Regions from separate parts of the Homo sapiens genome. Here regions 2, 3, 4, 5, 6 and 7 are each reported to be linked to region 1. Evidence: microRNA targets listed by miRTarBase, many of them from high-throughput screens and not tested one by one. Region 1 holds a microRNA gene; each other region holds the end of a gene's coding sequence.

The links. Region 1 holds the annotated microRNA hsa-miR-218-5p (UUGUGCUUGAUCUAACCAUGU, at 2,583-2,603, shown strand). A microRNA usually pairs through its seed, bases 2 to 8, with sites in the 3' UTR of a target mRNA and lowers its output. Matches are read on the target gene's strand: a 7mer-m8 pairs with bases 2 to 8, a 7mer-A1 pairs with bases 2 to 7 and ends in A, and an 8mer does both.
Region 2: the mRNA of RSBN1 is a reported target of hsa-miR-218-5p. Seed matches in the 3' UTR shown: 7mer-m8 at 3,148-3,154.
Region 3: miRTarBase lists STAM2 as a target of hsa-miR-218-5p. Seed matches in the 3' UTR shown: 8mer at 3,437-3,444.
Region 4: the mRNA of ZSCAN5A is a reported target of hsa-miR-218-5p. The part of its 3' UTR that is shown has no 7-base or 8-base seed match.
Region 5: the mRNA of IMMP2L is a reported target of hsa-miR-218-5p. The part of its 3' UTR that is shown has no 7-base or 8-base seed match.
Region 6: miRTarBase lists QRICH1 as a target of hsa-miR-218-5p. The part of its 3' UTR that is shown has no 7-base or 8-base seed match.
Region 7: miRTarBase lists RIPOR1 as a target of hsa-miR-218-5p. The part of its 3' UTR that is shown has no 7-base or 8-base seed match.

What each region holds. Positions count from the first base shown.
Region 1 is chr4:20,525,717-20,529,784 of GRCh38, forward strand. MIR218-1 (microRNA 218-1) reads left to right here and starts at 2,559; the gene lies at 2,559-2,668. SLIT2 (slit guidance ligand 2) reads left to right here. Exons shown (of 37, transcript NM_004787.4): 16 at 3,233-3,383.
Region 2 is chr1:113,762,257-113,766,324 of GRCh38, forward strand. It overlaps RSBN1 (round spermatid basic protein 1), which reads right to left. Exons shown (of 7, transcript NM_018364.5): 7 at 1-4,068. The coding sequence ends at 3,724. Among named protein-coding and RNA genes, the nearest start is that of PHTF1, 4.8 kb to the left of the region's middle.
Region 3 is chr2:152,117,012-152,121,079 of GRCh38, forward strand. STAM2 (signal transducing adaptor molecule 2) reads right to left here. Exons shown (of 14, transcript NM_005843.6): 14 at 1-3,791. The coding sequence ends at 3,563. Among named protein-coding and RNA genes, the nearest start is that of CACNB4, 20 kb to the left of the region's middle.
Region 4 is chr19:56,217,888-56,221,955 of GRCh38, forward strand. It overlaps ZSCAN5A (zinc finger and SCAN domain containing 5A), which reads right to left. Exons shown (of 6, transcript NM_001322064.3): 6 at 3,416-4,068. The coding sequence ends at 3,688. Among named protein-coding and RNA genes, the nearest start is that of ZSCAN5C, 18 kb to the left of the region's middle.
Region 5 is chr7:110,659,772-110,663,839 of GRCh38, forward strand. IMMP2L (inner mitochondrial membrane peptidase subunit 2) reads right to left here. Exons shown (of 6, transcript NM_032549.4): 6 at 2,873-3,950. The coding sequence ends at 3,831. Among named protein-coding and RNA genes, the nearest start is that of LRRN3, 430 kb to the right of the region's middle.
Region 6 is chr3:49,026,921-49,030,988 of GRCh38, reverse strand. It overlaps QRICH1 (glutamine rich 1), which reads left to right. Exons shown (of 10, transcript NM_198880.3): 10 at 345-1,282. The coding sequence ends at 537. IMPDH2 (inosine monophosphate dehydrogenase 2) reads left to right here and starts at 1,591. Exons shown (of 14, transcript NM_000884.3): 1 at 1,591-1,736; 2 at 2,183-2,231; 3 at 2,457-2,558; 4 at 2,667-2,741; 5 at 3,073-3,279; 6 at 3,942-4,029. The coding sequence starts at 1,639. RefSeq lists enhancers at 1,591-1,800, 1,254-1,855, 1,856-2,458.
Region 7 is chr16:67,546,218-67,550,285 of GRCh38, reverse strand. RIPOR1 (RHO family interacting cell polarization regulator 1) reads right to left here. Exons shown (of 22, transcript NM_024519.4): 21 at 4,055-4,068; 22 at 3,500-3,920. The coding sequence ends at 3,823. LOC124903703 (a long non-coding RNA gene) reads left to right here. Exons shown (of 2, transcript XR_007065094.1): 2 at 939-1,067. Among named protein-coding and RNA genes, the nearest start is that of CTCF-DT, 14 kb to the left of the region's middle. RefSeq lists a silencer at 2,986-3,280 and an enhancer at 3,230-3,289.

The DNA of each region.
Region 1 (4,068 bases):
TTATATGCAGTTGTTTCTTATTTGTTTATGACTTTACATTCTTCTATATCCAGAATTACAATATAACTCCATAAAAAAGAATATTTATGTGTGATGTGAAAGCATCAGAAGTTCATGGGCACAAAATGCCTTGAATAATTTAGGCAGATGGATAAAATGTTTCTAAGAAAAGTAATCGCAATGTTTTACCACTTCAATCGTAACACTATCAAGACTGATGATTCTAGAACTAGCTCTTTAAAATACGTTTCTTTACTTATTTTTCCTTGCCTGCCAATTGTGTAAAATGCCTCTTGACTTGTTTGTTTTAAACCATTATGTTAAGTATCGATTGGCCACATTCACCGTCTCTTGGGTATATTCTAGACTATAAAAAATTTTAAGAGCTATAGATTAAAAGATATTTCTACAGCGTTAGTGTACAGAGTTAGTCTAACTTTCCATATTTTCTTAAGAAGAACTCTGGGTTTAGTCTCTATTTTAAGGAGATATTTGTTAGCTTGCCATTATTGAATTACAATTTGTATAATTTTATGGATTTAGTAGATTTGGTGATATGACTTATTTTGAGCTTGAATGATCAATAGCATTGTATATTATTATACTGGCTGCATAACAAGTAACATGTTGAAAAGAACAGTTGATTGGCCTTCATTGACAATGTTTAATATTAATTACTTTACCCAATTAAGTGGAAAGTAATCTGATAGCTATTATTTAACCAGAAAAAGCCATATTCTAAACACCAGACTACCTATAGAATAAAACATTAATATGATTTAAATCCTAAAATTATGGCAGTAATGTAATTGGTATCAAATTATTCAAACTATTTCATTTAAATATACTTAATTAATAATTGGTAAGTTTAATATTTCCAATTCACTAAATAAAGAACAAAAGTCAGGTTGTTTTCATATATTCTGATATAGTTTTTCCCTGTTACTGACAGCAGCCAAAATAGGATTTGGAAATTATCTTTTATATCAAATATCATGTCTTAAGTTTCAATTTATGATAATTTAATTTACATTCTTTAAACATGATAATTGTAGAAGCCAGGACTCAAAAGGATCATTTGGGCTTCCTCCCCTTTTTTCCAAAAATTTTAATTAAAATTTGAGTCCACCTAACAAGCCACCATAAAATAAGCATTATTACTGTTCCGTTGAATGCAGATTATTTGAATTGCAAGATATCCAGTGTACCTGTCACTTAGACTTTGTGCACTCTTATTTCATTTTGGAGTGAAGCATAAATCATAAGACACCAGATCCTCAGTAAATATCATGGCATTAACTGCCAAATGTAATGAAACGATTATATTTACCATCGCAAACTTCTTATGAGATTCTGATTCCATTTCCACTAAGACACATTATTTATAAGTTGAAAAGTTCATTAAAAAGTGTACATCACAACATAAGGATTAATCCAAATGTTGTAATGATTGTCCTTGAGGATCTCCATGATTAGTTTTTCATTCACTTTTACGTGTGTACCTCGCTACTACCATTTTATATGGCACTCTACATATTACAGTGATAAAAGAAAATCTGTCTTGCAGAGAGTTCATCTTTTTTTTTTTGGAGATGGAGTCTCGCTGTCTCCCAGGCTGGAGTGCAGTGGCATGATCTCGGCTCACTGCAAGTTCCGCCTCCCGAGTTCATGCCATTCTCCTGCCTCAGCCTCACCGAGTAGCTGGGACTACAGGCGCCCGCAACCATGCCCAGCTAATTTTTTGTATTTTTACTGGAGATGGGTTTTCACCCGTCAGGTGAAATGGTCTTGACTTCCTGACCTTGTGATCCGCCCGCCTTGGCCTCCCGAAGTGCTAGTATTACAGGCGTGAGCCACCACACCCGGCCTTGAGAGTTCATCTTTTAAAGGAATCAAGAACTTAATTTGCACTATGCATCTTTTATTACATTGGTTTTCTTGTGAGACCACCGTGCTTCAAAATATTATTTATAAAATTTTACAAAGCATGACAATTCCCATCACATCATGCTATTTTTTCAATAATTCCCATAATAAAGAAAGAAGGAAGAGAGCTTAGTTTTATAAATATGTATATTAATCTTAATTGGGATTACTCTTTCTTTCCTTCTTGGTGATCTTTACTTTTGCAGGAATTCACCATTTTGGCTGTAAGTAAAAGTGTCTGATCTGAAACATAATACCCTCCCTTTTCAATCCTGATGTACCTTCTTCTAGTCTTGGTCTTTGGCACCTTTTTTTCAAGAAGAAACCACAGATCTTTTGAGCTTCTCTGTTGTCCTTGTAGCTCACCTTCAACTTCTTCCTGGATGTTGTTCCCGAAAGCTGTTGTTTCCATTCTGCAGTTCTGAGGAATGGTGGAGGCACCTTTTCCATATAGCCCCTTCTTTGTGTTTCCAGGAAATCATCGGTAGTAATACTCTTACTGTGGTCATAAACATTCTGCGGGAAGAATGCATGTCATGTAAACAGTATTACGTTTCCAGAACGTCTGTAGCTTTTCTCCTCCTTCCCTCCATTTTCCTCTTGGTCTTACCTTTGGCCTAGTGGTTGGTGTAGTGATAATGTAGCGAGATTTTCTGTTGTGCTTGATCTAACCATGTGGTTGCGAGGTATGAGTAAAACATGGTTCCGTCAAGCACCATGGAACGTCACGCAGCTTTCTACAGCATGACAAGCTGCTGAGGCTTAAATCAGGATTTTCCTGTCTCTTTCTACAAAATCAAAATGAAAAAAGAGGGCTTTTTAGGCATCTCCGAGATTATGTGAGAGGGAGAGAATAGTAAAAAGTCCATAGAAAATTTAAAAGCCTGAGTATATCTATTTGCCTTGAAAGCCCTAATTTACAATGAGATATAGGATCATGTTTATTACTGGATATATTTTCAATTCTTGACTCCGAGAAAAAAAATAAACTTTTTAATAATTAATATCCATTGTGTGACTAGCTGTGAAGTAGGCTAGAATGACTCAGAATTGGATCAGCAGAAAGTACAGCTGTGAAAAGCTCAACTTTATTAATGTTTTCCTGTCATGTGAATCTGGTCACTCTTTTTTCCAGAAAATTCCAAGCCTTTCTTTTAACCTTTCTCCTGACATCCATTGACCAAAATACCCCAAGTTGTCTCCCTGCTACATAATCTATAGTTATCTTACTTTTTTCTTCCTACAAACTAATAAATTTTCTAACCTTTAGACTCAGTATCTTTTTTTTGGTTTGAATTCTCAATAGGTACAGAAGATTATCGATCAAAATTAAGTGGAGACTGCTTTGCGGATCTGGCTTGCCCTGAAAAGTGTCGCTGTGAAGGAACCACAGTAGATTGCTCTAATCAAAAGCTCAACAAAATCCCGGAGCACATTCCCCAGTACACTGCAGAGTTGTAAGTTCATCCCCCAACAAAATTCTGGTTGGGATGGAGGGAATGAAAGCATTAAAGCATAAGAATGTTTGTCTTGCCATTTTTATTATTAATAATTGCATTAATTTTAATTAATATGCATTACATTGGCATAACTCTATTTTGTACAAGAATATATTAGAGGCTACCTTCATTCATCTTTCTAGCCAACCATACGATTAAGTACAGAAACTAATTTATCTCTCAAAATTCAGTAAGCACTTCATACTAATAACAATGGTATTTATTTGATGCTTATTTATTGGGTATTATTTATTCCCAATTTGTTTTCTAAGTACTTAGTTTTTAACGTATTTAATTCTTATAGCAACTAAATAAAGTAGTTTGAGAGCCTCCATTTTCAATCTCTGTAAACTATCAATAGATTCAAGGAGTCTGTCTTACCTAATTTACTACTTCATTGACTTACGGGCAGAAGGATTCAGTGGTTATCAAGTATTAAAGTAGAAAGGATAGCTTTTTCTGAACAATGCAAGAAAAGCTGAAAAGGCAGAATATGATGGTATTTACACTTAACAGCCTTAACATAGGACCTTGCACATACTAAGTGCTAAGGTGTTTGTTGGAGCACTTACAGATTCTATGCCCATGCATGGTTTGCCTTTACTGACTTTATTTATAAGAAGAGGACCTTTAATGTTAGTGT
Region 2 (4,068 bases), not on the chromosome of region 1:
CTATATTTTAAGAGACAGTGGTCTCAACTACATGCACAAGTGGATCCTAAAAAATGTATGAAGAAAATGGAAGGCCATAATATTTATGGAGAGATACTTGCTTTTAAAGCAACAAACTTTCAAGACAAGGATAGGTCCCTTACGTGCTAAAGAAAAACATTTGTACTGTGCATTTCCTCTACTTGCATGGCCAATAAATACAGCTACGACCTGTTTGAAAAACAAAACAGATGTGAACCTCTGGCATGTGCTAGCTAGTGAAAGGTTCTTTTTTAAAAACCTGTAGCAATGATAAAACAGATTAGAAAGATACAAAATTATCCTAAAGGCATAAATGCAAATAAATTTTTTATGGCAAATACAGATGAAAATATAATGGGCTAATTTATTAATGATTAAGAATATATTCACTAAGCGTTTTCATGGATTTGGGAGTCTTGTTCCTATATTAGCTTTCATTCTAGACAATTAATATTTATATAGGGAAAGGCAATAAGCAAGTTTTTTCCAGTCATTAAGTGTGACTTTTATGCCTAGTAAGACTGATGCAAGACATCTTTTCCTAAAGTTTAGTAAACAACTTTAATAAGCTCCTTTTTCCCCCTACAAGAGCTTGTAATATTAGTCAACTGGTATTCCAACTGTCTCTTAAGGGGAAAGGGCACTTTTCAAAAGTCTTTCACTAAAAAATAATAAAAGTACCAGTTAAACAAATTCTAAGTACTGAATAAGCAAATTAAAGGTACAATTAAACCTAGGAACCAATTTTTAGAGTTAAAACTTTGGAGGAGAGAACATACTATATAGGTTTTTATTATTATTGCTTTATGAATTTGGGTTACCACTTTGAATCATCATCCTACTCCTAGCATATCTTGGTATAGAGAATTACTTCTGGGGCAAGAGGAAGACTTTTATGCTTTTTAATGAATACCATGAAATTATTCTACTTTACTAAGTTAGGAATATTCATTTATTGGGTCCTTTCCATAAGCACATTTAAAAACCATCCCTCTGCTCCACAAAATATTAAAACTTATAGCCACATTGTGCAAGTAATCTCAAGAGCTGGCACAACGGATAATATACCAAAAAGGAAGATCAGCTTAAATTTCAGTTACAACTTCACTGCCATCACTACTTTAACAAATCAGAAGACGCCAGATTGCTCCATGCCTCACTCCACCAAACCAAATAATTTAATGATTTAGAAAAATTGCAATCATTTGTATCACTAAACTAGGATACAGCTTTGAAAGCAGTAAAAAACGCAAAACTTCTGCTTTTATACTCATCAGTCTTTAAAGCATGCTATTAAAATCTAATACTCACATAGGACATTCAGTTTTCAGATCACGTTACTAGCTAAATGTTTCTCTTCATTCTATTGCAATTCTAACATACAATGAATTTATTAGTACATGATTTTAAACATTTTTATTGTACTCTTTTAATGTGTTTATATTGGAGGTGAGGGTAGAATGTTTTATAAAAGGAAAATGGGGATTTGCTTTTGATTGTAGGTCTTTGCAGATCCGCTGGTTCCTGAGTGATAATACACAGTGCTGGCTGTCAGGAGACAGTCTCCTTGTTTATTAGCAATGACCAGCTTGGATGACAGATGGCATCTGCTGGATGGCAAGTGGGAGATGGGGAAATCGGATCTTGGAAGACAAGAAAAAATTAAAAAAAAAAAATTTTTGCTTTAACAGCCTTCTCTTCATGATTATTTTTAAAAGCAAATGTTGCCTGAGAAGAATTTTACTTTGCACAGCCTGGTAAAGCTCTTCTGGACAGAAAAATAAAAACAAGAAATAACCCAAACCCACACACTTTGTGATTAAACCCCTCCCCAACAAAATAACAAAAAACACCCTCAAAGGCAGGTCCCGTTAAAAACTAGTCTGGATAAACTGGAATTTACCCTAGAATTTATACCCAAGATTTAAAAACACCCCTGCAATAATCACATTACCTTTCATACCATTCTAATTACCTTATTTACAAAGATAACTAAAGCCAACATCACTTCCAATTCATAAATGGTTTACATTGAAATGTATCCCTATTTGTCTTCATCCTTTGTAACAGAGAATACATACATATACATATATATAAGGAATAATACAGATTCTAACTAATCACTGCAGTATTTGCTGATGGTTACTTTTCTATCGGTTTACACAGTGACCTCTATACTTTGCTAATATGCATTTAACTACACAACAATATTGCACAAAGTAATATTTATATAAGATTTAACCTATTTCAGAATATTTTAGAGAAAATTCATATTTGATATTTCAAAAGATGCAGCTAAGTTTTCATGGTGACAGACATAATAAAGCAGCATCTTGTATTTTTTTTTTTTTTTGCCTATGTTAATGTAAATATTTCAAATCTTACCATCCAGGAAAAAAAAAAAATCTCCAAATTGCACTGTAACCAGGGAGATATAAGAATCTGGTCTTAGGTGTGGGGAGTACTCTTCCATTAATAAACAAAAGGCCTACTGTATTATTAACTAAGAGAAAGTATAATGTGAATCATGTTAACATTCTAAAATAACAGAAAGTTAGGACCATACTAGCAATGTGAACTGTGCCTGTTTGAAAAGAAAATTTAAATACTCAGGCACTAAGCATTAGCCTACCTGAAACTCTAGGATGAAGTCTAGTGCTGTATTCTTTCTTAGAAAATAGCAACACAGAGTAATAGTAAATAAACCCAGGTATTCACCAGTTAAAACTGTGAATTGAAGTGTCTCAGTAGTAGATATTTATCATGAAGAGGTTGATGCCAAGTGACAAGAATAGTTTATCATAAGATTGATGCTCAAAATATGGCAGCCTCATCAGAAAGACTATTATTATTCTCTAAGTTTAATAGTTGTGATCAGTTTAGGAAGCAAAATTATCCCCACAAAATGTGAGGATGCCAGGAAGCAGAACAATAGAGTATCATGTCAACATTATCTCTTTTACCCAAAATATCTTCAACAGTTAGCATATATTCTAGAAGAGATTAATGAGCCATGGATAATGAATGACCAAGGACTATTCATCTTTAGATTTTTTTTTTAATTGAAATATCCACTGGGCTTTAAATAACAGATACAAAAAAAAGACAGTTTGGATCAGAAAGTGCTGTGCTTTCTCTTTTGTTAAGAAACCAGAGAGCCACTGAAATTTCCTTGGAAACTACTTGTTATTTGTGGTTAGAACTAAATAACTTACTTGCCCATGTACCAGATGCAGAAATTCTTTCCTGCAACCTATGCCATTTTCACTGTAGAAATTGAACCTGTGCCATAAAGACACAAGTACTAAACCATAAATCTTATTTATCCATAAAAACAGCAAATATGGCAAGAGACAAGGCAAGATAAAATTAAGGGAAGTGAATAATTTACCAAACAAGAATCTGTTATTCCAGAGAATTCTCATTTTGATTTGAAGAAGAGATTGAATTGTTACCTCACACCTTAAAACAGAAAGTAGCAGCAGACCCACTATTACATACTGTACTAACGGGATAAGATACAACTCTTAACTTTGCATAATCTGTGTAAAAAAGATATGCTTGACATTTGTGGAATGTCATTTCTCTTTATAGAATTATAGGCAAGATTTCTCCAATAAAACTTAACTTAAGCCAGTTATAAAACTATAACTTCACATCAAAATTTAAAAAAGTTAAAAAATGTGTTTGAATATGTACATATCACACAGAAGTGGTTGAATGTTCTTGCAGATTGTGTTGCTGGTCAGAGTCCAGTCTACTTTCCACTTTTAAAACTGGAATAGGCTGAGTCTTCTGATCTTGCTGTAGATTAAGTTCTGATGCAGGTGGGAAAGATGATGAAGCAGTTGTTAACAGCTGAATCTCTGTGCATGCTTCTTCAGATTCAGTTTTTATCCTCACACATTGGGAGTCAACTTCTAATTCTCGCTTTCCAGTTAAACCACAGTCCATGTTAGAATTGCTTTCTGTGTTTTGAGTGGCTTCCACAACAGGGTGGTACTGTTTAAGCCTTATATGCCAGGCTAAGCTGCACACCGCCGAAAC
Region 3 (4,068 bases), not on the chromosome of region 1:
GGGTGGCTACTGTTAAGTCACATTGTGACATTCCAGGTGTACATGAAATTTGGAGGGACACTATTCACTATATCACACAAGCAACATAATGCCTCTTTTGACACAGTAAGATTTTAAAAAAAAGACTCTCAAACTTTAATTCAGCTTGATAAAATTAGAATTCTTCTTCTGGGGAATTTTCTTTTTGAGACAGGATCTCATTCTGTCAGGCCGGAGTGCAGTGGCGTGATCACACCTCACTGCAGCCTCAAGCAATACTCCCACCTCAGCCTACTGACTAGCTGGGACTACAGGTGCACTACCACACCTGGCTAAGTTTTAAAATTTTTGTAGAGATAGGGTCTTGCCATGTTGCCAGGTTGGTCTCAAACTCCTAGCCTCAAGCAATACTCCTATCTCAGGCTCCCAAAGTGCTGGGATTATAGGCATGAGCCACTGTATCTGGCCTCTGGGGAAAACTTTTAGAAATATACTTTTAATTTTTGAAAGAAAATTAAACCAAACAAAAATCAAATCCCTAAAACTGAGTATTCCCATTTACTAACTGGCTAAAACTGATGATGAAAGAAGAAAAAGTACCTTCCGATAGAAATAAAGCATTATAGATCAGTGCTATTTATAATTTATTACTTATCAAAGTAACTCCAGCTTTCTTATAGCAATTCAATAAGCCCTCTCCTAGAACTCAGGGGCTTTTAAATTTATGTTTTTACTAAGAAAACCTTTTTAAAAAAAATCCCTAAGCTATATGTTTTTAAAACATTTAAAATTGATTTTTTAAATTTTGAAAGTGAAATTATAACCATCTTCAAAACATACAGTAAAATGTATTACGTAGACAAGTATCAATTATTTCAAACAGCATGACAATTTAACTACAAATAATTTCAAATCCTAACAAATATAATTACCTAATGTTTAAGTAATTTTATAAATAAATTACCAAATTAGAAGACAGTATTGGTTGACTACATTTTACAAACTATAAGAATATATCCCACACTTCATATATTTTAACACCCTGGGGTATTTTTCTGCATTAATAAAATTCATTCTATTATAAATTTTCAGGAATTCTTTCTGATGTACCAAGATTTCATATGAAAAAGCAGAAGCTATTTTTTTATTTCTGATATAAAACAGTAAGTATGAACCCAATGTAGAAATCTGAAGTTAGACAATTCCCTTTGGCAGAAAACAATTATAAACAGGTCTTAATATAAATAGAATCCATAAGCCCATAAAAAGGGAAGTACACAACCCTGTGTTTCTTAACACCGAAAGAATCATCAGTACACAGATTTAAAATCATTTTTATCTCTCGACAGCCTGCAACACAAAATTACATATGGCAAAAAATAATTTTTAACTTGAGAAAGAAAAAAACTTCTGCACATATAAACTTTCACCGATGTGCCAATATATACTATATATTTATATATATATATATGTGTCATGTTTTATTATTCTAAAACTACATTATTTATAATGGCTGATCCCAATTTAGTGGGTGTGCAGTAATTATATTGGCTCAAAGACATGCTGAATTAAACTTTTATAATTGAGATCACAATTATACATGAAATACACAAACATTAAAATAAGTTTATTAAATAGAGTTTGGGAGAAAAAAAGTAAGAAATTCCATATATATGCAAATGTTGACTATTATCGAGAGCAGCTTTGGATTTTTTTTAAATGTTTTTTAAAAATTATTATTTTGTAAATAACAGAAGATTTGTTTCCAAAAAGTAAGGTGCCATTCAGAAGTATATAATTGAATTAACATAAAGGAAAATACTGAATAAAAAACAGAACATGAGATATTAAAGGTTAAAACTTTCTGTTCAGTTATTTGTATCTGAAGTTAAGACAATGACATAAACTGAGCTTTCAAATACTGCTAATTTTTCCACTTAAATGTAGATCAAGTACCATATAGACTATTTTGTTCTAGAATAAAGTTTCTTTGAAAAAGGAACATATTTATAATCAAATTTCTGTAGATAAATGGCAAAATTTTCAGAGAACTAGCTTGAAATGGATTTAGTAGAAAGAATGACTGCTTCCTTTAAAAAAACAAATATAGAAATCTTGCTTCCACGTAACTTTTTAAAAACTAATGTCCATTGTTTTTCCCAATCTGAATATGTTTCCATACATGTATGTATTTGCAATTTCTATTTTCCAATATGTAAAAAGTTGGTAGACAATGAAGTAGTGTGCAAATTTTTAGGAGAGAAAACAATCCCTACTGGTTTACTACCAAACTCTCACAGTTATATAGAATCTATTAGCACTATAAACTAACTCAAAATGCAGGCTTCAGAAAAACTGCTTCAATAGCCTCCCTATCAATCTGTCGCCTTCTATGAAGTCTTCACCTGCTATTATTCCACAGGCTGAGAATTACTTCTGAAAGAAATGGTCAATTTTTTCAACAGCTTGGTATGTTGACAGCTTAGCAACGGTACTTGAATCACCTCTTTAAAAAAACAACACACCACTAAAAACACACTTATCATCCATGCTTGGTATATCTCACAACAAATTATTAGGAATGTCTCATGGTTCAAATTCACACGCAATCCCATAAAAAGGATATGCAGCATCTCTGCACACCACATTGCAGGAAGAAAAACAAATGGACCATATCTTCATTAGAGAATAGCCAAAATCACTTGAAAAGGTTATTAGTGACAATTCTAAATACCAGAGATACATGTAGGAAAGAAAATGTTTTTCCTCAGGGAATGGAAATGTTTTGTGGGACATTCCTTCACAGTTGGCATGACTGTTTGGGGGACTGACTAAATGCTTTATCACACATCTGCATTTACAAGGTCTTCACTGTTAATCACAGAAAACATTTTTGTTCCTTCCAGATTGCTCTTGCTTCTGTAGACAATTATATGCTAATTATTATTCAACATAACAGTGAGAGCAAAAGTGACAATACTGCAAACACAACCGCAATTTAAGGAGCCAAAAAGAAATATGCTGGCAAGCTAAATGCTTACACACAAAAAAGTTAGACTTTTAAAGTGTGTGAGAAACTCTGAAAAAAATATTTCAAGTTCTTCAGTGCTCTTATGACATTTTAGGGGGAAACAGTGGTTTCTTTAAAATAATATTTTAATCCTCCTATCTCATACTGTTTATAAGTATGAGATACTTTTGACAAACTCACTCTGTCGATCATGCTACTGCACTCCAGCCTGGGTGACAGAGCGAGTTTGTCATAAGTATCTCATACTGTTTGTCATAAGGCTACTTAATGAGTATCTAGATTTATGTAGAGAAATCTGAAAGTAAGACAAAACTAACTGAAAGCATCTTTAAGCTGCCTCTGATGAAAAGATTGACTTCAAACAAACTGGACTGAAAAAAAAAAAAAAAAAAAACCTTTTATGGCCTTGTAGAATAAGAGAGGTTTTTGTGCTTTATTTATTCATGGTCCTTTTGAGTTGAGAGGGAAAAAAGTTTTAATATTTTCAGGTTGGTATCACAAGGACTGAATAATACACTTATGAAGGCTTTCAAGAAAATGCTTGATTTGTTTCTAAAGGAGAGGCTGCTGATGGTAATTTGTGTGCTGCTGTGCAACTGGATGAGCTGGAACTGTCACCGGAAAGCCTGCCAGTTGAGGCAAATTGGAAGTAGTGTTCTGATAAGATGACATATCCACAGACATCCCCATTTGCTGTGTGTAAGCAGTTGTACCAGTAGCTGACTGTAGGTTAGAGTTCTGGTTCATATAAGTAGGATTGGAAACAGTGTCTTGTCCAGTGCTACAAACAAAATTTTAAAAAGAAAACCATATTTACTTTGCAATATATAAGGTTAGAGATCAATCATCATGACAAAAATGCCTTTTCCATCTTCTTTTTAAGCTTACGTAGCTCTGCTGTTCTGATTACAATTTAATCATTCCAGCCATTGAATACTGTTAATCAAATTTTCTTCTTCTTATTTTTGAGATGGGATCTTGCTCTGTTGCCCAGGCTGGGGTGCAGATCATAGCTCACTGCATTCTCAAACTCCTGGGCTCAAGCAATCCTCCTGCCT
Region 4 (4,068 bases), not on the chromosome of region 1:
CCGGAGGCCGCCCCTAGAGCCCGGGCCCCGGTCCAATGCTGTCTGCGAAGAAGGGGCCCATCCATGCCCGCGTTGGCGGCAGCGCCAGGCCGATGGCGCTGGATGGAGCCCGAAGGCCGAGACCCCAAATCCCTCTGCTTTTCTAAGAAATCGCCCTCCAGTCTTTTTTTTTTTTTCAGATCTGTAACTTGTTTTCACCCCTGATTTAAAACAATACCACTGTTCTCCCCCAAATTTTCCTTTGATACAGTAGGTGAACAAAATAGATTTTTTTCCCCACAAATATCAGCAGACACTTCTTGGCACCCCACACTGTATTGGCATGGGTGTTAACAGTCCCAGTTCAGGTGTGCAGCCTTTCAGGTGGATGCACTGTAACAAGGATGTAAATGCGGAGCCATCCTAAGAATCACATTCAGTCATGGGGTTGCCCTTCCAAGCTGGCAGAAAAGGAACCCGGGCCAGGCACCGTGAACACACACAGTAACTCATGCCTGTAATCCCAGCACTTTGGGAGGCTGAGGCGGGTGGATCACGAGGTCAGGAGATCGAGACCATCCTGGCTAACATGGTGAAACCCCGTCTCTACTAAAAATACAAAAAATTAGCTGGGCGTGGTGGCGGGCGCCTGTAGTCCCAGCTACTCGGGAGGTTGAGGCAGGAGAATGGCATGAACCCGGGAGGCGGAGCTTGCAGTGAGCCGAGATCGCGCCACTGCACTCCAGCCTGGGCAACAGAGCAAGACTCTGTCTCAAAAAAAAAGAAAAAAAAAAAAAAGAAAATCGACCTGCCAGACTCAGCCACACGTTAGATCACCTGCGGAGTTTTATAAACTCTCAACACAGGGGCCACATCCTCAGCCAATCACATCATTACCTTAGGGCTGGACCCCAGGCATTGCTTTTAAAAAAAATATTAAAAACTCCTCAAGTGACTCCAACATGTAGCCAAATTAGAAAATGAAGCTCTAAAGAAACATTGGATGTCATTAATGGATCATAGAGCACCATGATTGAAATTAAACGGGCAGGTGGTATTATCAACACATTTTCTACGTCTGTGAAGAAGGTTGGACCCAATCACCAAAAGGGAGAACCACCACCCACCCCTACCTCCACTTCTTGAATGAAAGGGGAGTCTATGTACATTTTATGGTGGATTCCAGGTCCCTGCCTCAAAGAATGCTACTCCGAAACGGACCTGGGTGAGGCAGGATAGGCAGTCAAGGAAATGACCACGTCCTCAGGATGCTGCACGCGTGGTGACTGTACAGTCAACACAGTAAGCCTCAGCGTTCACATTGGAATTGAGTTCATTCAAGCAAGGCCATCTCCAGTAGGGTATTTCCACTGTAGTATTTCCACTGTAGAGAGAATGTGCACGTTGATCTTACCCATCCACAAACCGACACATTTCTTGTTATGATAGTAAAAAACACACACCTGGGCGGGCAGTTAAGACGCTAATGAGACATGTGCACAGCTACTGCACCTGTGTGCCCAGAAGAGCACCCAGAATATGCTTAGTAGTAACACCTCTTCCCACCCCCCTAGGTGTAATCATCCAAGACTCCCATAAAGGGGAGTCTCCCTCAAGCAGGTCTTTGCTGTCTCATCCTTGGGAGCAGCTGGCCCTGAATCCTTGCTCCCAGGATGTCCTGTCTATTCTGCCCTTAACTTTCAAGATATTGTATTTCCTCTGTAATCAATTATTCTATGATGCATCTCTCTGCTGTGGGTCTCTTGATTAAATTCCTTTAAATTAAGATGACAAGAACCAAAGTCTTACAAAAGTAGTCTTTAATAAATGAATCCAGCCTATTTGGGAAGGGACCTTTCCAGACCTCTGCAGATTGCAGGACTCTGCCCGTCAGCTCAATCAGCCATCCATAAAATGTCCTCCCAAGACCAGCAGCATGAGCACCACCTAAAATGTACATTCTCAGGTAATCCCAAACAAGTAAAATCTGAGAAATTGTCACCAAGAGGATCCTAGGGAGACGTGACAACTCAAGGCAATGTGGTGTCTTGGATGGGGAGGAAGGAAGAGGAGGGCATTGTGTAAACACTAAGGAGGCCTCAATAAGGTATGGGCCTTAGATCACGGCAATATATCCAGTCAGTTCATCGCTCCAGTCAGTTCAAAGGTGCCATCCTAATGAACCATGTTGGCAATGGGGGAAGCCATGTGGGGCATTAGGGAGCTCCATGGACTTTAGAAAGCTATTCTAAAATGAATTATATATTTTAATGCACACTCTCAGGCCCCATGCCCGGTCTGCTCAATCAGAAGCTGAGTCTGGGGCCCACCCACCTGAGGATTAACCACGCCTTCAGGGGATGGTAGTATCACTAAGACCAACTAGTCACCAGAGACTCCCAATGCCTCTGTAGTTCAAGAGTCAAATCGGGAATTTAGAGGTTGCCAAATTTAGGCCACAAAATACACCATCTGGGGCAGGGAGATAAATATGCAGAGCAGAGAGGATTCCGGGGGCAGTGAAAATACCCCCCAGGATACTCCAGTGGTGTGTACTCATGAGGCCTTTGTCCAAACCCACAGCACGTACAACACCCAGAGCGAGCCCTAATGAACACTATGGACTCTGGGTGGTGGTGATATGTCCAGGCAGCCTCACTGATGGAACAGGTGCACCACTCTGCTGGGGATGCTGGGCAGGGAGAGGCTGTGTTGTGTGAGGAGGGAGTCTAGGGGAACTCTGTGCTGTCCACTGAATTTCCCTGTGAACCTAAACAGCTCTGAAAAAGAAAGTCTAGAGCCAGGCGTGGTGGCTCACCCCACACCAGCCTGGGCAACAAGAAATCCCATCACTACAAAAAATTATTTCAAAAATTTGAATATCATAATTATAATAAAGTCTAATAAAAACAATACAGGGCACAGCGGCTCATGCCTGTAATGCCAGCACTTAAGGAGGCCGAGGCAGTTGGATCACTTGTACTTCGGAGTTCAAGACCAGCCTGGGCAACATATCAAAATTCCATCTCTACAAAAACCACAAAAATTAGCCAAGTTGGTGGCGTGCTCCTGTAGTCTCGGCTGCTCGGGAGGCTTAGATGGGAGGATTGCTTGAGCCTGGAAGGTCGCGGCTGCAGTGAGCGGTGATTATGCCACTGAACCTCAGCCTGCGTGACAGAGGGAGACGCCATCTCAAAAAAAAAAAAAAAGAAAGAAAGAAAAAAGAAAACGAAAACTCTACAGGATACCCAATAAAAGCTGAGTTTCAGATAAATAAATAATTTAGAACATGCTGATACTAAAGAAAATTGTTTATCTGAAACTCAAATTTCATCAGGCATTATGTATTTTATATGGCCACCCTCCTTGGACAACTGTACTTTACAGCAAAACAGTGGGTAACCCCATGTCAATCAGGAAACTCAGTTTTCCGTTATACAATATTGAAAACTAATAAGATGATCGTTTATTGGAAGAACAGCAACACAAACCAAAATAAACCTATAAGAAAACAATGGACATAATGAAACAGAAAACAAAGCTCAGTGGGGAGGACACATATTTACTCAAACATCCTGGCAATTCATATCTAGGGCACTCCCTCTGTGTGTCAGACGCCCTTGCATGTGTCAAATGTCATCTGATAACATTGATGAAAAATATCATTCACTTCTTCTTGGTGCAGAAGGCATAGACCGGATTATGCAATCACTGAGAAGTAGCTTCTGGATGTGTTTTCTGGTGGCGTCTTAACAATTTCAGCCGACTGAAGGCTCTTGGACACTTGGAACATTTGTAGGGTTTCTCTCCGGAGTGGATGCGCTGGTGCTCCTTCAGGCTCCCCCTGTAGGTGAAAACTTTCTTGCAGTCTTTACATTCGAAGGGCTTCTCCCCTGTGTGGCTTCTCTTGTGACACTTCAAGTAGGACTTCTGGGTGAACTGCTTCTGGCAGACGTCACACGTGTAGGGCCTCTCGCCAGTGTGGGTTCGCTGGTGAAATTGGAGGCTAATAAGCTGCATGAAGCGCTTCCCACAGAGATTACATTGAAAGAGTCTCTCGCCTGTGTGTGATCTCTTGTGGATGACTAG
Region 5 (4,068 bases), not on the chromosome of region 1:
TTCACATAGTCCCATATTTCTTGGAGGCTTTGTTCATTTCTTCTCTTTTTTCTCTAAACTTCTCTTCTCACTTCATTTCATTCATTTGATCTTCAATCACTGATACCCTTTTTTCCACTTGATCAAATTGGCTACTGAAGCTTGTGCATGCATTAAGTTATTTCTCGTGCCATGGTTTTCAGCTCCATCCGGTCATTTAAGGTCTTCTCTACACTGTTTATTCTAGTTAGCCATCTGTCTAATCTTTTTTCAAGGTTTTTAGCTTCTTTGCGATGGGTTTGAACATCCTCCTTTAGCTTGGAGAAGTTTGTTATTACCAATCGTCTGAAGCTTTCTTCTCTCAACTCATCAAAGTCATTCTCCATCCAGCTTTGTTCCATTGCTGGCGAGGAGCTGTGTTCCTTTGGAGGAGAAGAGCTGCTCTGATTTTTAGAATTTTCAGCTTTTCTGCTCTGGTTTCTCCCCATCTTTTTGGTTTTATCTACCTTTGGTCTTTGATGATGGTGATGTGCAGATGGGGTTTTGGTGTGGATTTCCTTTCTGTTTATTAGTTTTCCTTCTAACAGTCAGGACCGTGAGCTACAGGTCTGTTGGAGTTCACTGGAAGTCCACTCCAGACCCTGTTTGCCTGGGTATCGCCAGTGGAGGCTATAGAACAGCAAATATTGCAGAACGGCAAATGTTGCTGCCTGATCCTTCCTCTGGAAGCTTCATCTCAGAGGGGCTCCCAGCTGTTTGAGGTGTCAGTCGGCCCCTACTGGGAGGTGTCTCCCAGTTAGGCTCCTCGGAGGTCAGGGACCCATTTGAGGAGGCAGTCTGTCCGTTCTCAGATCTCAACCTCTGTGCTTGGAGAACCACTACTCTCTTCAAAGCTGTCAGATAGGGATGTTTAAGCCAGCAGAAGTTTTTGCTGCCTGTTGTTCAGCTATGCCCTGCCCCCAGATGTGGAGTCTACAGAGGCAGGCAGGCCTCCTTGAGCTGCAGTGGGCTCCACCCAGTTCGAGCTTCCCAGCTGCTTTGTTTGCCTACTCAAGCCTCAGCAATTGTGGACGCCCCTCCCCCAGCCTTGCTGCCACCTTGCAGTTCGATCTCAGACTGCCATGCTAGCAGTGAGCGAGGCTCTGTGGGCATGGGACCCTGTGAGCCAGGCGCAGGATATAATCTCCTGGTGTGCCATTTGCTAAGACCATTGGAAAAGCGTAGTATTAGGGTGGGAGTGTCCCGATTTTCCAGGTATCATCTGTCATGGCTTCCCTTGGCTAGGAAAGGGAATTCCCTGACTCCTTGCACTTCCTGGGTGAGGCGATGCCCGCCCTGCTCTGTTGGCTGCACCCACTGTCCGACAAGTCCCAGTGAGAGAAACCCAGTACCTCAGTTGGAAATGCAGAAATCACCCATCTTCTGCATTGCTCATGCTGGGAGCTGTAGACTGCAACTGTTCTTATTTGGCCATCTTGGAACATCCGATATATAACACATTTTTATAAGTTACTTGGTAAAATTGTTTGAAATGACTGTTGTAAAAAGTGAAAAAAAATTAATTACAAATCTCAATATTCCTGAGGTACAATCATTATTTCACATTTTACAAATTAAATGTATAAAACATAATACACACACTACACCCTGAACAGTAAACTAGCAGTAATGTTTGAGAGGAAACTATTTAAGTAACTGAAATCGTTTATACAGATTAAATTTATAATTCACAGGAGGGGAACTCCATTCATCCTAGAAGGCTCAGCCCGTGGCACCCCTCCTGTGGTGGTTTCTCCCATCCCTATTTCCCCAGGCACAATCAGATTTACAGCCCTTTCTGCTCCCATTGCACCTATTCCATGCTCTATACCTACTGCGGAATTGTATGTTAACTCTTTGCCTCTTTACAGTTCCTCCTGCCCCCACCAGTCGACTATGAGAACCTTTGTTTTATCTACTTTGATTTTCCTGTCCTTAACACAGTGCCTAGGATTCATACATTGATTGGACAGGATTTTATTGTCAATTATGAGCAATCGTATGACCAAGTTGAGCAAGATAAACCCTGCTCTAGATTAGACTACTAGTTCACAGTCTAGTAGGGGAGAAAGTATGTACACGAATCATTAACATGCAGAGTGATACATTAATGAAGGTATATACCAGGTAGAGCAGTGACTTTGCCTGGGGATGTATTCCTGAGGAAGTAACTAGTCAGCTGAGCTGTTCAACAAGCATTAGGCATTAACTCTGCTGGTGATGTGCTGGATGGCTAGTGAATAGAAAATTGAATAGAAAGAGCATTTACCTTCCCTCCAAAGATATACAATCTTGAATGAATAGTTCGAGTAACAATGGCACGGGTAGTCAATAAGGTAGCAAGGCTGATAGCCAATGGGGTAAACTGTTAAAATATTGAACTCTTCTATACCAGTGGTAAATAGCAGTCACTACCAGCACCTGTCTATTTGTTCTTTACTCTACCTCCCCTCAGTACTCCCAATCCCCTCCTATATGACCCATAGACCCTCCTGTGTTCCAGCAAGTAAAGAGTCAATACCCTTATGTACTAAACATTTTACACATAATTCCAAGGGATGCACTTTGCCAAGAAAGAAAAAAATTACAAGCTTTGAAATAGCAGTATTTGGTAAACTGCAGTTAAAAGCCAGGGTATGAAGTTCGAGTTGGGGAAAAGAGAAAATGGAACTGAAGAATTGAGAAGGGCAATGAAGAGCCACAGAAAAATTTTAAGCAGATCTGTTTTAAAAAAAATTCTGTCCAACATTAGTATGTAAGTGCTCATTAATATTTGTTGAATATGATTATGCTAATAATAATTTACACAAACCTCTAACCAATGGGAGAAAAAGAAGCTTTCATAAACATGGACTTAGATGCAGGGAATTTATTCCATTATCCATACAAATTACAGACTCTATGATTCTACTGTAACTTTGCAATTGGTGATTTCAGTATTACAGACGTGAATACTGAGAAATAATTAGGGGAAGAAAATCAAACGTGGCTGATCTGGACTGTTTTTTCTTCTATTTCACTCAGAACTTTTAAACACATAGTATGACTAAATGCGGATAAAGGGGTTTACCCATCATTGTGAATAGGCATGAGATCACTCAGAAATGTTGGATTACAAAGGGCCAATAAGAAAGGCTTGACTGTATGCAAGTGTCGACAGAATGGGTTCTCCATTACTTTGATTCCTTATTTTCAGAAGAGATAAGAAATTCCTCATTAATGGATGTACTCAATGAGAATTAAATACTCAAAACAGGACCTTAGCAAATCATTGTTTTATTTTAACATCACTGTTTACTGTTCTTCCTAACTGGCAGTTACTCCTTTGTAGATAGTACAAATCACAATGTAATTCCCATCATTATGTGTATAATATGTGTTCCTTCTTGTTCTACCTTAACAGCAAGTGACAAATACATCATTTTTATTGAATATTAATTTTCAATTTATTTCAGCAGCAAGCACCAAAATCAAAACCCAACAATCAATATAATAAGTATATGTAACAAATAATCTGAAATTCAGCCCCATTAAGACATGTGGGTGCAATATTTTTATATTCCCAAAGGTCTGCATATTTTGGGGGCATTAAACAACAGGGAACTAAAATTTAACACAAAATCAGGTGCCATTTAATACTGTTTAACATTTGAAAATTATTTATTTAATAATACAGATCGTTTTAATGTGCTGTAAATATTTCTCGCACAGCATCATATTGTCAGAAGTTTTTCCCTTTTGGAGGCTTCTTTTTTCCATTCCTTTCCAGTAACTGGCCTCCCAATGCCAGCAACTCAGGTAGATTCATGCAGTCATTCCTCTTCTCTCTGTACTGGTAAGCGCTCTGGAGGAAGAACAGATTCCAATTTCTGCCAGCGCTCTGGGGGCCACAGGATATGTGTGGCATGGGCATGCAGAAGTCCTAGGGAAACCTTAATTCATGAGAAACAGAAAGAAAGCAATAAAGAGATCATTTTATAAGAATCATTATTAATAGCTTGAAAGCAGAATTTAATCCAGGTTTAACATCCCAGGGAGAAGTGATGATGA
Region 6 (4,068 bases), not on the chromosome of region 1:
CAAAGACTTGGAGATAGACGCTTTGAGCAGTGAAGCTGGCTTCAAGTAGGATAAGGATAGACTCACATGAGTCCATGAGAGCCCTAGGCTGGTGCAGTCAGTGATGGATCACAGCTGGTTTGTGGGAAGGAGGGGCAGAGGGGAAGTAACCCAACATTTGGGGGATTTGCAGTAGTCCCAAAGGAGGACCAGGATGTAGTGTGTGGTGGCTGCATGGAATTCAGTAGCTGTGCCACAATAACTTGGGGCCTTACTGTTTGCAGACAGCATCTGTCTGGGAAGTTCAGGGTGGGAGGGTTGAAGTTATATTGGTGGTACCCAACTTTTATCCGCATATTCTTCAGCCCCCAGAGTGTGAAAGGCCGGAATGACACCTTTTACCTGACACCTGAGCCAGTGGTGGCCCCCAACAGCCCAATCTGGTACTCAGTCCAGCCTATCAGCAGAGAGCAGATGGGACAAATGCTGACGCGGATCCTGGTGATAAGAGAAATTCAGGAGGCCATCGCAGTGGCCAATGCAAGCACTATGCACTGAGATGCCTTGGCCATGGCACAAGAGAAACCAGCCAGGAAAAACCAGACAGACTTTCACACTAAAGAAGAGGCCTCCATTTTTTTTTTTCTTTTTTTTATTGGTGTAGTTACGAAGCCTTTCAGGCTGCTTCTGTTTAAAATATAAAAGAAAACTTTGCCCCCTTTGCATCTTCATAAACCTGCTGCGGCAGACTCCTCAGCCGATGGTGGCTCTGGGTTTCCTTGAGTGTCATATGTCCTAGAAAGTTGCTGGCTGACTCTTTTTTGTCTGGGGCCTGGGGAAAGGGCTTGGACTGTGAAAAGAAATGTGGCCCCTTTCCATCTTCAAGAGAGATGGAATTAATGATGGATGGACCCTGGAGGGAATCTCCCCAGCCGACTTCCACTGGGCTGACAGACTTTGCTGACCACAGGGGAACGATGTTCTTTTCTTTCTTCATGATCAGACATAAACTTAGCATCTTAATGGAAGAAAAATGAGGGGAACTTCAATTATGATTTATTAAAGACAATTTCTATTACACCCTCCTTTATGACAAGTGACATTTTAGATGTAAAAGTAAAAACTTTACCATGCCTTTTTTTTTTTTGTTGGCCTAACATTGAGGCCTTAAAACCTGAGGCTCCTGTGCCTGATGGAATTCTTGTAACATACACTTGTGTATCATATAAAGATACCACTCTGTTTCTCTTATGTATTCTTACTCTAGTTGTTTATTAAGAATGACAAGCACGTCTTTTCAACATGTTAGTGAACAACGTCTCTTTATTTTGGGGAGGAGCCCGGCGGGACAGTAGAAGTAAACCCTTGCCTGTTAATTGAACTGGCCGAGGTCCTGCGGGGAGTGTGGGGTGGGACGTGAAGTGGCAGCTCCTCAGTGACAAGGCCACTATGTGCTATACGCATGCGCTGTTTCTTCAGCGCCAGCTCCGCCCCCGCCGCAGCGAGGCGGGTAGGTTCCGCCCGCGCGCACTACGCCCTGACGTCAGCGTCGCGCGCAGCGCAGTGACGAAATCGGCTGGTTTATATTGGCGCGGCCCAGACGGCAGAGGTCTCTGCGGCGCGGTCCTCGGAGACACGCGGCGGTGTCCTGTGTTGGCCATGGCCGACTACCTGATTAGTGGGGGCACGTCCTACGTGCCAGACGACGGACTCACAGCACAGCAGCTCTTCAACTGCGGAGACGGCCTCACCTACAAGTGCGGGCCTATGGGGCTCACCTGGGCGAAGAGAGGGGCGGCACCCTGGGGAAAAGGCCAGATGGGGGCTTCCGAGAGCCGCCTTGGGCGTGGGCGTGGGGGACAGGTTTCGGGAATTGGCCACCCACCTCCGGGGCTCACTTTGAGACATCTGGAGCGGTGCTTGGGGTACGGAGAAGCATCTCAGTAGTGCTTGGAATCTCAGGCCGGAGATTCCATGCTCCAGACACATGGAATTGTCAGGGTGCCAGGAGCACTGATGACAGCTCGGTGGCAGAAAAGGTCCCCTGTACCCATTTCCACCTTGTGCTGTGCCTGTGACACACAGACTCTGTCAGTGCCACTCTCTGCTCACATGCGTTACGGGTTGATTGGTACATGGGGATGGAGTCTCATGCTGCCCTAAGCTGAGAGCTTTACTCCCAATTCACTCCCTTCCCTCGCAGTGACTTTCTCATTCTCCCTGGGTACATCGACTTCACTGCAGACCAGGTGGTGAGTATGATCAGGAATTGGGTCCTGAACATCAAGGTGAGCTAAGGTGCTACTATCACCTGGTCTCTGGGCTAACTCACCAGATTGGGCTTGGGGGTGGATTTTATAGGATCATGTTGCTTGTTAGCATGCAGGTCATACAAAAGTGCCTTTTTGTGGGGGACTCAGTAACACCTTGAGGTGTAAGGGATGCTTTCCCACACTGGTTGACGTTTGTCTCCTCAGGACCTGACTTCTGCTCTGACCAAGAAAATCACTCTTAAGACCCCACTGGTTTCCTCTCCCATGGACACAGTCACAGAGGCTGGGATGGCCATAGCAATGGCGGTGAGCCCCATGGGGTGTGGGGGAAGGAGCAAGGACTCCATCGCCTTTCCCCAAAGGCATTCAGTCCTGCTTCTTGTCACTTAGTAGTAGTCTCTTTTTATCCTGTAGCTTACAGGCGGTATTGGCTTCATCCACCACAACTGTACACCTGAATTCCAGGCCAATGAAGTTCGGAAAGTGAAGGTCAGAAGGGCAACGATCATTAGCAAGCGCTCCTGGGAATTGCACTGAGGTGGGGTGGGGTGGGAGTAGGGGTTTATTCTAATTTAGTATTCTTTCTTCCCACCATGGGGTTCAGTTACTGAGAAGACCCTGAGATTCTGTTTCTTAAAGCAGCAGCAATAGACCAGGTGTACAGTGCCTCCAGCCTACCCATGTCTCTAAGATGTGTTGGTGTGATTTGGTCTTGTGGCACTGCCAAAGGGATCGATAAGCAGAGACCCCATGCTTCAGATCAAGAGCCTGATGAAAGTAGTTCAAAGATGCGATGCCCTTTCTCACCATCCCTTTCCAGAAATATGAACAGGGATTCATCACAGACCCTGTGGTCCTCAGCCCCAAGGATCGCGTGCGGGATGTTTTTGAGGCCAAGGCCCGGCATGGTTTCTGCGGTATCCCAATCACAGACACAGGCCGGATGGGGAGCCGCTTGGTGGGCATCATCTCCTCCAGGGACATTGATTTTCTCAAAGAGGAGGAACATGACTGTTTCTTGGAAGAGGTGGGTGCCACTGGCAGAGTAGATCCAAGCTCTAGCAGCCCAGGTTGAAGACAAGGGGCTTCTGTTGTCTAAGACATCTCTGATAGCCTCTTCTCTCTGGGAAAGGAGTGTCAAACCAAGTTTCTGACTCCTTTATTGGGTTCCTGCATCCTTTCCCCACCAGAGGCTTTCAAACTGCCCAAATGCTTGCTAGTATTCATGCTTTGTTCTTTTAAACCCCTAAGGTAGGGGCAGTGCTTGAGGTCTGCCCTGATTTTCTTGCCATTGTTCCTGTGTTGTCCTCCTTATTCCATAGTGTAAGAGGGTGCTCCCTGTGCCATGTTGTCCTTTCTACTCATCCCTCACTCAATACCATACTGCTAAGAATTATTGGGATCCCTTGAGGAAGGGTGTTTTGGGTGTGAATGTATGAACGTGGTGGTCCATAGAACTTCACCCCTGTAATCTCAGTACTTTGGGAGACTGAGGCAGGCAAATCATGAGGTTAGGAGTTTGAGACCAGCCTGGCCAACATGGTGAAACCCCGTCTCTACTAAAAATACAAAAAATTAGTTGGGTGTGGTGGCGCGTGCCTCTGAGCTCAGCTACTTGGGAAGGAAAGAAAAGAGTTAACTGGTCATAGTCGATGACTGGCCCTTCTTCACATCTCACCTCCCACGTAGATAATGACAAAGAGGGAAGACTTGGTGGTAGCCCCTGCAGGCATCACACTGAAGGAGGCAAATGAAATTCTGCAGCGCAGCAAGAAGGGTAAGTCCTAGAGCTGGGAAAGGGCCTGGAACTAATGCC
Region 7 (4,068 bases), not on the chromosome of region 1:
AGCTGTTGGAGGAGAAACAAGTTTTGAGAAGATGTTGAGTCTGATTTTGAGCATGTTGAGTTTGAAATGCCCCAGATGTTCAAAAGGAAGTGTCCAGTGAGCAGCTGGATGTGGGGGTCTGGAAGCAAGGTAAGAACCATGTGAATGATTGGCATGCAGCCTCAGCATGTGGATGGAAGCCAGCAGAATGGGGAGGTCATCTAGGGGTATGTTTTGAGAGAGAGGAAAGGGCCTAGAATGGAACCCTGTGGGGCGATTTTTATTTTTTAAGTAGAGACAACATGGGGTTTCACCATGTTAAGACATGCCTGAGGAGGAGGAGAAGGTTGTAAGGAAATTAAGAGGAGACAGTTAGAAACCTAGGTGTTGCGTATAGCAATTCAGCTGCTCTCAGTCAGCATTCACTGAGTGTCCATATGCCCTGGGTGTATCTGGAGACAAGTGAGACTTGACCCTTGACATTAAACTCAGAGTAGTGGCCATCACCCAATTGCCGTCAACCTTCTGAAACAAGAGACCCCTTTCTCGCAGGCCAATGTCAGTCCTATTTTCTAAATGATAGATTGTGCTTCATTAGCAGTTTATATGAGGCACTGGAGTCCTTCCCAAGCTTACCCTCCTGTATCACCCAGGCCCAGAAAAGCCAGGCCTTGCAGCCAAGCCAAGAGCCTTCTGTCCATGGGAGATGGATGGCCTGAAAGGGACACTCCAGGATTGTCTGGGGTGGGGAGGGGGGTATGGAGGGAAAGGAGGGTCATGTCATATGTCTGGGGTTCAGCAAATTGTACCCACATACCAGGCACAGAAACATACAAGGAAGGCACCCCCGCTCTGTGGGCGAGACAAAGCAGCAATCCTCTTCCCACATGCCAACCCATCTTTTTCTTTGCCTTCACAAACGTGCCTTTTTTCTTTCTTCTTTTTTTGGTCCTCTGCAGCTTGGAATACATGAGGAAGAAGAGTGGGAGACAGGAGGAAAGGTAAGGTTGGGAGAGGGCAAGAGGAAAGGAGGAGAGTAGAGGGAACACTCCATCGATTGCCAGCACAATAAACTGTATCATGGACTACTTCAGCCTGGCCCCTGCTTTGCAGTGTGCGTGGAGCAGTTTCCTCTGGGCAGAGTCTCAGAGATGATGGCCAAGGCGACTGTGGCCTCAATGGACTTAACTGATAGGGCACTTCTCAGTGTGTCACAGGCCTTGGAGGCCCACTTCCATCTGTCCCCTCAGAGGCTGGGCAGACGCTTTCCCTGCCCTGATACCTTTGACTCATGATGGTATCGTCAACTGCCCATCACCTGAGGCAAGGGGCTCCCAACTGTCCTCAGTCCCAAACAGCAGGAACACCTGCCTCCCTGACCCACATGACAGCAGGGTAGGGGGTGGGAGAATGCTATGGGCAGGTTTGCCCTGTGGGAGGCCCCTGTGAGGCAGAGGGGGTCAGGAGAGATACAGAGGTGGGAGGACAAGGGTTCTCTCTGCCCCTCCACCATCTCAGGAACCTGGGCATGGGCCTGGGTGTAGGAGGCCATCCAGCCTGCCTTCAAGCCACTGATGGAGAGAGGCTGACTGGCTGTCCTGGGGTTGATTCATGCTGCTCTGAGCCAGATAGGCATCATGTGCTTCACCTGGCTGTGCTCACAGTGCCCTCATTCCAGCTCCTGTCCCCTTCCGATCCTCACACCCACCCCTGGCTAGAGCTGAATACTAGGCTCTGGCCTCAGGACTCTGCAGAGCACAGAGTCTAGGGTCTGTCCCTTCCCAGCATTGGAGAGCAGGGATTCTTAGTGACAACGCCAGTGGACCCCTTGGCTGGGATGATGACATTTTTCCATCCTCCATTTCTTGCCCAAGCCCTGCTCTCTCCTGTGTACTGAGCTGTGAGCTCATGCAGGCTCAGTCACCCCCATCTGCACTTTCCCAGGACCTGGTCAACCAGTGTTCACTTCCTCTTCCCCCACCATGACAGGCTATGCTTTTGATGCAGGTGGATAGCCCTGCTCTACCAATGGGCCTCTTGTGGGGGCCTCAGGACTGAGGGCTGCTAGGGGCGGTTCTGGGATTGCCGGCCTCCTCCAGGGACCCCTGGGGCAGGCCCCAGCTGTGGCCAGCCTTGGGTGCTGGCCTGGTCTCCATCATTTGTTTGCCTCCTCTGCCCCATGCTGCTCCAGCTCACCACCCCAAATACTGAGCTGCACCATCCCGTGCCACCCTTCGTTACCCAGAGAGCAAAGAGCCGCGCCAGTGTGCAGAGGGCTGCCTGCCTGCCCCTGCCCACCCTCGCCCCAGCGTCTGGAATGAGCCACTTGCATCCACACAGGTGCTTCCTGTGCTTCTTCCTGTTGCCGTTTTTTCTGCTCAGCTTGGCTTCCCCAGCAGGTGGTTAAAGCCCCAGCCAAACCTCTTCATACCTAGCTCTAAAACACTGGGGGGCAGGGCTCCCTGGGGATCTGGGTCACCCTCCAGAGGACTGTTGGCACTTCACTGGCTCTTCCTGAGGGCAGGCTCCCCAACGTGACACGTCCTGCACAGGCCAAGCTGCTGCCACAGGTACTGGGACATCAGAGTGGCCTCAATGAGTCAGGGAAGTGCTGCGTATGCACCACCTCCTTGCCCCTGGATACTGGAAGTGCTGAGGGAGAGGGGAAGGGTGGAGAGCCTGTTTCTCTAGCCACGGGTGTGGGCCTCCCTCAGCCCCTCCTTAGAACAGGCCTGCCATCCTGAAGTCCCACCCCACACTCCAGTTCCTCACGCAGGACTCAGCCTTCTGGGGTTAACACATTCACTGGCCAGGCAGCTCTGGGGCAAGGCGAGGCGGGGCAAAGGCAAGCCCTCTCCTGGGATCTCTGCTTCCTGAAGCAGCACAGGTTGGCCGGCTGTTGGGGATCACAGAGTTCAGGCACGTTTGTTATTATAGAGGGGGAGACAGCTGGAGAGGGAAGGGACTTGCTGTCTTGGGTCACAGGTTAGCCATCCAGGTCTCCTGCCTCCCAGGTCCCAGCTCTTCCCCTCCGCAAGGAGCTCCTCTCCCCTGCCATCCAGCTTCAAGGAGCTCCTTCAGCCCCCTCTGCAGAAAGCTGCCCAGGCTGCAGAAGACCCAAACCTGGCATCTGCTGACGCGGATCTGCTGCCCCCTGGTGGGCAGAAGCTCCAGCCACCCCGTGCCTCCTTTCCCTTCCTGTTTTTCCTTTCCCTTCCCCTTTGCTCCCAGGCCACAGCCTGGGATTGGCACCCTTTGGTGTTTTCTGGGCCAACTCCAGTTTAGCTCCACCTTGGGCCGTAGTTCCCAGGCCCAGGGTAGGCCCCACCTGCAGGCTGAACCACCCTTTTCCCCTGCTCTCTTCTCCAAGCCCAGTTCCAGCCTCTGGGCTTTCTTCCACCTGAATTTCCAGGGCAAGTGCACATGGCACTGTCACAGCTGCAGTGTGAACACACCAGTGTCAGGCAGGGCCACAGCCAGAGGGTGTTGGAGCAGAGGGTCAGGAGTGTACCAGGCCATGTAGGAAAGACATTTTGCTTTTTTATTTTCTGTAAAACTCTGTAAATAAAATACAAAACCAAGGGATGTGGCTGGGCAGCGGCAGGGTGGCCAAGCCCCAGACACTGATTTGTGGCAAGGGATGTGCTGAGCCGAGGCTGGGAGGCACTTGACTGCAGGCACTGACTCTCCAACCCCAGGGGCAACAGAAGAATATATTAGATTTTCATTGCTAGGAATCTGTGGGGGAGGGGTATCTGGAGCCAGCCCTTACCCTCCCTGCCAGTGCCTGGTGAGCCCTGAAAGTGGGGGGAAAGGGGCACCAGGAACCCATGGGTGAATAGTTTAGAATGCTGTGCTGGCCATGCTGCCAGGCCCAAAGATGCGGGGCAGGGCGTCCAGGGACTCCTCCAGCCGTCGATGGGCAGACTGTCCCTCTTCTCCTGTAATGAGTGAGGATGAGGTCAAGGGTGGCCCTAGCCCCATCCCACTCTCCCACCCCTGGCGCCATCTCTCCTACTCCCATCAGCCAAGATGTCCCAGAACTCCACCCATCTCTTCCATCCCCCAGCCTCACCACACTGCTGTAGG